2 linked regions of the Homo sapiens genome follow. The protein of the gene in region 1 purifies or fractionates together with the protein of each later gene. This does not show direct contact. Each region holds a gene or a part of one and is shown on either strand. Other genes may lie near its edges.

The links.
Region 2: the proteins of GRSF1 (region 1) and ACOT9 purify together in Homo sapiens (affinity purification with mass spectrometry, with the first as the bait; one study listed by BioGRID). This does not show direct contact.

What each region holds. Positions count from the first base shown.
Region 1 is NC_000004.12:70,829,588-70,833,684, forward strand, and holds part of GRSF1 (G-rich sequence factor 1), read right to left. Parts: intron 3,687-4,097; coding exon 3,531-3,686; intron 2,864-3,530; coding exon 2,720-2,863; intron 2,088-2,719; coding exon 1,952-2,087; intron 1-1,951. UniProt on the Homo sapiens protein: Regulator of post-transcriptional mitochondrial gene expression, required for assembly of the mitochondrial ribosome and for recruitment of mRNA and lncRNA. Binds RNAs containing the 14 base G-rich element.
Region 2 is NC_000023.11:23,732,979-23,736,776, forward strand, and holds part of ACOT9 (acyl-coenzyme A thioesterase 9, mitochondrial isoform a precursor), read right to left. Parts: intron 3,039-3,798; coding exon 2,941-3,038; intron 1,390-2,940; coding exon 1,363-1,389; intron 240-1,362; coding exon 194-239; intron 1-193. UniProt on the Homo sapiens protein: Mitochondrial acyl-CoA thioesterase. Catalyzes the hydrolysis of acyl-CoAs into free fatty acids and coenzyme A (CoA), regulating their respective intracellular levels. Regulates both mitochondrial lipid and amino acid metabolism.

The sequences.
Region 1 (4,097 bases):
CAACTGCAGTGAGCTGTATCACACAACTGCACTCCAGCGAGGGTAACAGAATAAGACTCTGTCTAAAATTAGCCAGGCATGGTGATGCATGCCTGTGGTACCAGCTACAAGGAAAGCTGAGATGGCAGGACTGCTTGAGCCCAGAAGGTCAAGGCTGAAATGAGCAGTGTTTGTGGCACTGCACTTCAGCCTGGGTGACAGAGCAAGATCCTGTCTCAAAAAACCAAAAAACCTTTGAACCACTTCTATCAGTAGATCCTGAAACACTGGCTTTGGAATGGCTGTTTTGTTTACTTCAAAGGAGCTGATTTAAAAGGCCAGAAAACAGTAAAAAAAAAAATTAACGAAACAGTGATTTAACATTTGACATTTTAAACTGTACCTCCAAAGTTAAAGTTAAAACACAAATGAACCCACTTATCATCATGTGCATCCTGAGGTGATGTCAACATGAGATACTGTACAAGACAACTGATCTAATTTCTTCAAAAGTCAATTGCTTTTAAAAAGGGGGGAAGAATAAGTAAGGGGGATTTGCTCTAGTTCAAGAGAATCAGTGGTCAGGTGCAGTGGCTCACACCTGTAATCCTAGCGTTTTGGGAAGCCAAAGCGGGCGATCACTTGAGCCCATGAGTTTGAGGCCAGCCAGGGCAACACAGCAAGACCCCACCTACAAACACACACGCACGCACGCACACACACATACACACAGCCAGGTGTGGCGGCACATGCCTATTGTTCTAGCTAGTTGGGAGGATGAGGCGAGACGATTGCTTGAGCCCAGGAATTCAAGGCTGTAGTGAGCTATCATCATGCCACTGCACTCCAGCCTGGGTGACAGAATAAGACCCTGTGTCTTAAAAAAAAAAAAAAAACACACACACACACAGAGAATTATGGACATAACAATCAAATGCAGTGTGTAGACCTTATCTGGATTCTGTATTTTTGTCCGGTGTGCTGGCTCACACCTGTAATCCCAGCACTTTTGGAGGCCGAGGTGGGTGAATGACTTGAGTCCGGGAGTTCTAGACCAGCCTGGCCAACATGGTAAAACCTTGTCTCTACTAAAAATACAAAACTTAGCTGGGCATGGTGGCGCATGCCTCTAGTTCCAGCTACTCAGGAGGCTGAGGCAGGAGGATCACATGAAACTGGGAGGCAGAGAGAGGATGCAGTGAGCCAAGATCACACCACCGCACTCCAGCCTAGGCGGCAGAGTGAAACTCCGTTGCCAAAAAAAAAAAGGCTATTTTTGGTATAATTGGGAAAATGCTATTATGAACTGTTATTAGATAATATACTATTGCTAACAGTGTTAGATATAACATTGAAATTATGTAAAAAAATTTTTTTAAAAGATGCATACTAAAAAAAACCCAGATGAAGCAAATATAACAGATGTTACATTTTATATATAAATGTGTTAATCTAGCTGCTCTAGGTACTCTGTCTATGGGTTAGTCCCTGCCCCACAAGGAGCAGTCAAGCCGGATGCGGTGGCTCACGCCTGTAATCCCAGCACTTTGGGAGGCCGAGGCGGGCGGATCACAAGGTCGAGAGATCGAGACCACCCTGGCCAACATGGTGAAACCCCGTCTCTACTAAAAATACAAAAAAAGCCGGGCATGGTGGCAGGCGCCTGTAATCCCAGCTACTTGGGAGGCTGAGGCAGGAGAATCGCTTAAACCAGGGAGGCAGAGGTTGCAGTGAGCCAAGATCGTGCCATTGCACTCTAGCCTAGGCAAAAAGAGTGAAACTCTGTCTCAAAAAAAAAAAAAAGGAGCAGTCGAAAAAAAATTGTTAATCTAAATTATGGGCATTTGATGGCTCACTACACTACTCTCTCTACTTTTCTATGTTTGGATAACTTTTCAGTCATATTACAGCACATTCATCAAAATGACTTAATGTGTAACACTTCTGCATCATTAGTATCTGCTTTACTCACCGATTACCAATTTCTTCCCTGTGTTTCAACAGGGCTTGGTTGGCCATTTCTGGTTCTTCAAATTGCACATAGGCTTCCCCTGTTTTTCGCCTCCCTCTATAGTCCATCACAAAAGTAATGTCAACTATATTCAGTCCTAGGACACCAAGAGATTTTAATGCTACTAGCAGGCTTTTTTATCCTTAGAATTAACACCATCATTCACATACTAATAAAATTTTTATTCTGTTTTGCCAGTCCCAAAACTGAATACATGCTTGACAGGAAGAAAATTATTATGCAGTCAAAAGTCAGTCAACACCTACATACTTGTATTTCCAGAATAGGTAAGGTCCAAGAAGCCCACCCAAAACATACAATTCTCCCCACCAGTTTTTTTTTTTTTTTTTGCTGTTAATTATATACTAGGAAACAATAGAAATCACAGACTTCACTGCTAATGGTTCTAGGAATTAGAAAATACTTTTAAATTATATAAATTGTTATTGTCTTACACAAATACAGCAACTATTATGAGAAGTTATTTCCTTCAATAGTAAAACCCTCATGAAATTATTCTGAAATCTGACTTCCCTCCTAAAATCTGCCTGATAGAACAAAAACACATATAAAATCTATAAATATTAGAAATTTAAGTGAAGAGCTCTCCCCTAAAGAACCTAATATAACTGCATGCCTTTGCCCAGAAACAGGCTCATCTAAGATATAGAAGGAGATACCAAGGGAAAAAAGATATGAGCTCCCAAGCATAATACAACTGCAAAGTACCTGCAAAGAAGTCTACAATGTCTTTCTCATTGCAACTATAAGGAAGTCCTCTCAAACGAACCACACCATCATTTACCACAGGCGAAGATTTGACCTGCAAGCTCTTCATTAAGGCATCCACATCTTCATTGTTTATCTCATATACTACGAAGAAAAAACCCAACAGGGATGAAAAATTTACATAACAAAGGAACAAACCCATTAAAAAAAATCATTACAACTTGCTGGGTTATCTGAGAATTCAATAACTATTTTAATCTTTATGCGCTTCTCTAGAGAAAATAACAAATGACATTTATTGCATATTTACCATGCGGGCATAACTTCTTTATTTCTCACAGCTTGTAAGATACTTCATTGGCCAGGCACACTGGCTCACGCCTATAATCCCAGAACTTTGGGAGGCCAAGGCGGGTGGATTACCTGAGGTCAGGAGTTTGAGACCAGCCTGACCAATATGGTAAAACCCCATCTCTAATAAAAATACAAAAATTAGCTGGGTATCATGGCATGTGCCTGTAGTCCCAGCTACTTGGGAGGCTGAGACAGGAGAATTGCTTGAACCCAGGAGGCAGAGGTTGCAGTGAGCTGAAATCGCACCACTGCACTCCAGCCTGGGTGACAGAGTGAGATTCCATCCCCCCCACAAAAAAAAGAAACTTTATCTCTTTATGTTTTATTTTCACATCCTATAAAAGAATGCATTCATACAATCTAAATACTTCATTATTAAGGATCAAATAAAAACTACCTTGAAAAGTATAAAACCTAATGCAATGATCCCAAAAAGCCATAATCTGACTTCACATACCTTCCACATACCGCTGGCCCATGTACATGCGGTGCTTCTCTAAGGCTTTCTGCACATCCTGCTCTGACTCCATTTCAATTAAGGCATCACCCCTTCGTTTCCCATCTCTGTTTAGGAGAAAATGTATTCCATTCTCACCGTTGCGGATTCTGCAGTCTAAAAGTGTATGAGCAAAATCAATTGAAAACAGAAATCAAACTTTTAGCTCAATTATGTAAGTCACAAGAATGCAGTTTTCCAACAACAAAGCAGGAAACAAGTGTCATATTCCTTACACAAATCCCCATCACTGAAGTCATCCAAACACCAATAAGGATTTAGTCTCTAAAACCTTCCAAGTAGAAAAGATAAGCAAACCTTAGCACAGAAGCTTATGATCTCCTTCCTGATCATTAAATAGCAAATCAGGATAGGCCCAACACAAAATTCATTATTTCTATTGCAATGTTTCTACAATCACTTAAGGAAATACAATATAGTTAAATTTATACATAAGTGTCTTCCTTTAAAATCATCTCCATAGGTCTCTAAAATATTTCCTGTATGAGTAATTTTATTACCATAGTT
Region 2 (3,798 bases), on another chromosome or scaffold:
TCTTTCATGACAATGAGGTGTCATCTGATGAGTATGTTGAAATGTTGACCTTCTCCCCCAAGCAAAATACTTCTCAACCTATCTCTGAACATAGGGCTCCCCATCCCCACTGTGAGACCATCAACTGAGCCTAAATACAGTGTAGTATAATACCTTGGGGATGAAAAGAATGAATGAAAACAAAGATGCATACCTCCAGTTTGTGGATGCTCCTACTATCTCCCGCAACTTATCTCGAACTGAAACAAAAATAAAGAGGTCATTCCATGAAACAAAGAAATATGAGAAACGGATTATGGCAATGAGCTCAAGAACTACAAAAAGCAATTCATGCACTCAAAAGATTTAAAGATCCATAGATTTCCATTTAATGCCACAACAAACAGCTCAGGGACAGGATCAAGCCTCTGCTCCCTAAAAACCTGAAAGAACTATACTGTCTCTTTAAAGGTGCACAAATGAATACCTTTGTGCCAATCACTAGGGTTTATATAAACAAACAAAAAAGGATAACTTCAATTATTCACTTAATGGGGCTGTATCAGTGTTAGCCAGTAAGAGCCATTATGATGGAGATATGAACAGGATTCCCACCTATCTTCTTTTTTGTTGTTTTTTTTGAGATGGTCTCACTCTGTCACCCAGGCTAGAGTTCGGTGGCACAATCTCGGCTCACTGCATCCTCCACCTCCCGGGTTCAGGCGATTCTCCTGCCTCAGTCTCCCAAGTAGCTGGGATTACAGGCGCTGTGCCACCACACCCGGCTAATTTTTGTAGTTTTGTTTTGTTTTGTTTTGTTTGAGACAGAGTTTCGCTCTTGTTGCCCAGCCTGGAGTGCAATAGCACGATCTCAGCTCACTGCAACCTCCGCCTCCCGGGTTCAAGTGATTCTCCTGCCTCAGCCTCCCGAGTAGCTGGGATTGCAGGCAGGCATCACCATGCCCTGCTAATTTTGTATTTTTAGTAGAGATGGGGTTTCACTATGTTGGTCAGGCTGGTCTTGAACTCCTGACCTCAGGTGATCCGCCTGCCTCGGCCTCCCAAAGTGCTGGGATTACAGGTGTGAGCCACTGCGCCTGGCCCCCACCTATCTTCTTATACGCAGTAATAGATCAAATTACTTAGTTCAGAGACTAATACTAATATCCAAATCTGAGTCTCATTATAATTAATTTCTCATATATTTATAGTCTCCTGGTTGTTAGAAAAGTTTAAGCCAGAAAAATGAAGCAAAGACTTACATCAAGCTAAGGCAAAGAATGCAATTTTAGTTAATGCCACTGCCCAAAAGTGCAAGCGTATATTAGTGCTTACAAAATTTAAGCTCTTAAAAGAAAAGCTGATACTAATTACCACACACACCATGATTCACATGTATAGATGAACATGCTATATGAATAAAGGGAAAATCAATTAGAGAACCAGCAATAATTCAAAACTAAAAGATAAATCTGTAGTATTTCAAATACTGTGTTGAGTTTATGTGTTTTTCCTAGCACTTCAAAATATACATTCCAGTTATAGGAAATTAACTATAGCAATCCTCAGTCCTTCAATAACTAACTGATCAAAACCAAATATAATTTATATGAACATGCATTTTAACTTTCATGAAAAATGGTTGATTTTTCTATCAAACAATTTTGGATACACCATAAATTTGATGTATAATTACAACTAAATGTTAGAGAACTGCAAACAACAACCATTAGTAACTTAGTCTTATTTCTGATTTTTTCCTCCTAAGTTCCTTGAATAAAAGAATGGATGGGGCCGAGGTGGGTGAATCATGAGGTCAGGAGTTCAAGACCAGCCTGGCCAAGATGGTGAAACCCCGTCTCTACTAAAAATACAAAGATTAGCCTGGCATGGTGGGCACCTGTAATCCCAGCTACTCAGGAGGCTGAGGCAGAGAATCACTTGAACCTGGGAGGCGGAGGTTGCAGTGAGCCAAGATCCCACCACTGCACTCCAGCCTATGCGACAGAGTGAGACTTCATCTCAAAAAAAAAAAAAAAAAAAAAAGGCTCACACCTGTAATCCCAGCACTTTGGGAGGCCAAGACAGGCAGATTACTTGAGGCCAGGAGTTCAAGACCAGCCTGGCCAACGTGGCGAAACTCCATCTCTCCTAAAAATACAAAAATTAGTTGGGCGTGGTGGAGCATGCCTGTAATCCTAGCTACTAGGGAGGCAGAGGTTGCAGTGAGCCGAGATCCTGCCACTGCACTCCAGCCTGGGTGACAGAGCAAGACTCCATCCCAAAAAAAAAAAAAAAAAAAAAAAAAAAAAAGAATGGACAGAAAGTACCTCAAATAGTACATGGACTACTGATGCTCACTGACATAAAATAATTACTACTAGCTTAATCAGTGTAAGAAGAGAGGCAAGTATTGAGGGCCAAGAAGGAAAAACTTTTTAATTTTACTTACATATATATTTATATACACACATAATATAAATTTATTTGGACCCTTTAAAGAAGCCGCAATTTTAATTATAACGAATACTCCTAGTTTAATAAAGACAATCCATAGTTTACGTATCATATTGGTAATTGAAATTAACTTTAATTAAGCATGGACTAACAGGATCCCTCGAACATAACTATGGACTAGGAGTGTTTACTTGATACAACTAATGGGCCCATCTCTTTTTTTCCATGCCTTCAGAACCTACACACAGGAAGTGGAAATCACCTAACTAAAAGAGCTCAGTCCTCAAGGCTCCCAGGAACAATAGTTCAAAATCTGAATGTGACTTCTATCTGAAGCTATTAATATTATGCAGCTATCCTGGTCATTTTGTCAATGAAATGTTTATGAAAGATCTACCTTTAATATGCCTCATTTGCTCTAAACTATCACTCTATATACCTTTCAAATAAAAGTAAAACAAGGTTTTTCACCACATAGGCATCAAACAGAGACACCATGCTTGCCTTCATGAATGTGGAAGATTCCCTGTTTCTTGGGGTTCTGGGGTCCTTGAGTCAGTCCTCTTCCAGGAGTAAGCTGCCCTTTGCCCAAGGCACAAAGCCTATAAAACAAGATAAAACACAGAGCAGATCCCACAGCTTCTTCCCTGGCAACCCTAAAGACCTACCCTCCTCCCAGAGTATCTGGCCATATCACCCTTAGTATATATTGTCTTGTAGGAGTCTGTAGCTGTTTCACAAGTATATGTATGTTTTCATGAGGCTATTCCATAAATCATCTCTCCCACTAGAGTAAACATTTCTTGAGAGCAGAGACCAATTAGGTAATTATCTACAAAATAAATAAAAGACGGCAACTAGGTTTAATGCATTTATTATTGGTCTTTCTATTTTATTAGTTTCAGAAGTCCATAATCGATTTAGTAAACAACTGAGCAAACTCATTATGAACAATTTATTCTGTTCTTTATTATCGCACCATATTTCCTCAATAAATAAGATAAACCCAATTATAAAGTAAACTTTGAAAATTGAATTAGCCCTTTCCAGATGCAAAGAAAGTATTTATTTAACTTACGCAGAAATTTTCTAGAGTCCCAACACAATAAAATAAAAGCTATCTACTGGCCACGGTGGCACAGGCCTGTAATCCCAGCACTTTGGGAGGCTGAGGCAGGTAGACAGGTTGAGCCCAGGAGTTCAAGACCAGCCTGGGCAACATGGCAAAACCCCATCTCTACAAAAAATACAAAAATTAGCCGGGCGTGGTGGCATGCACCTGTGGTCCCAGCTACTCAAGAGGCTCAGATGGGAGGATCACTTGAACCCAGGAGGTCGAGGCTGCAGTGAGCCAAGATTGTA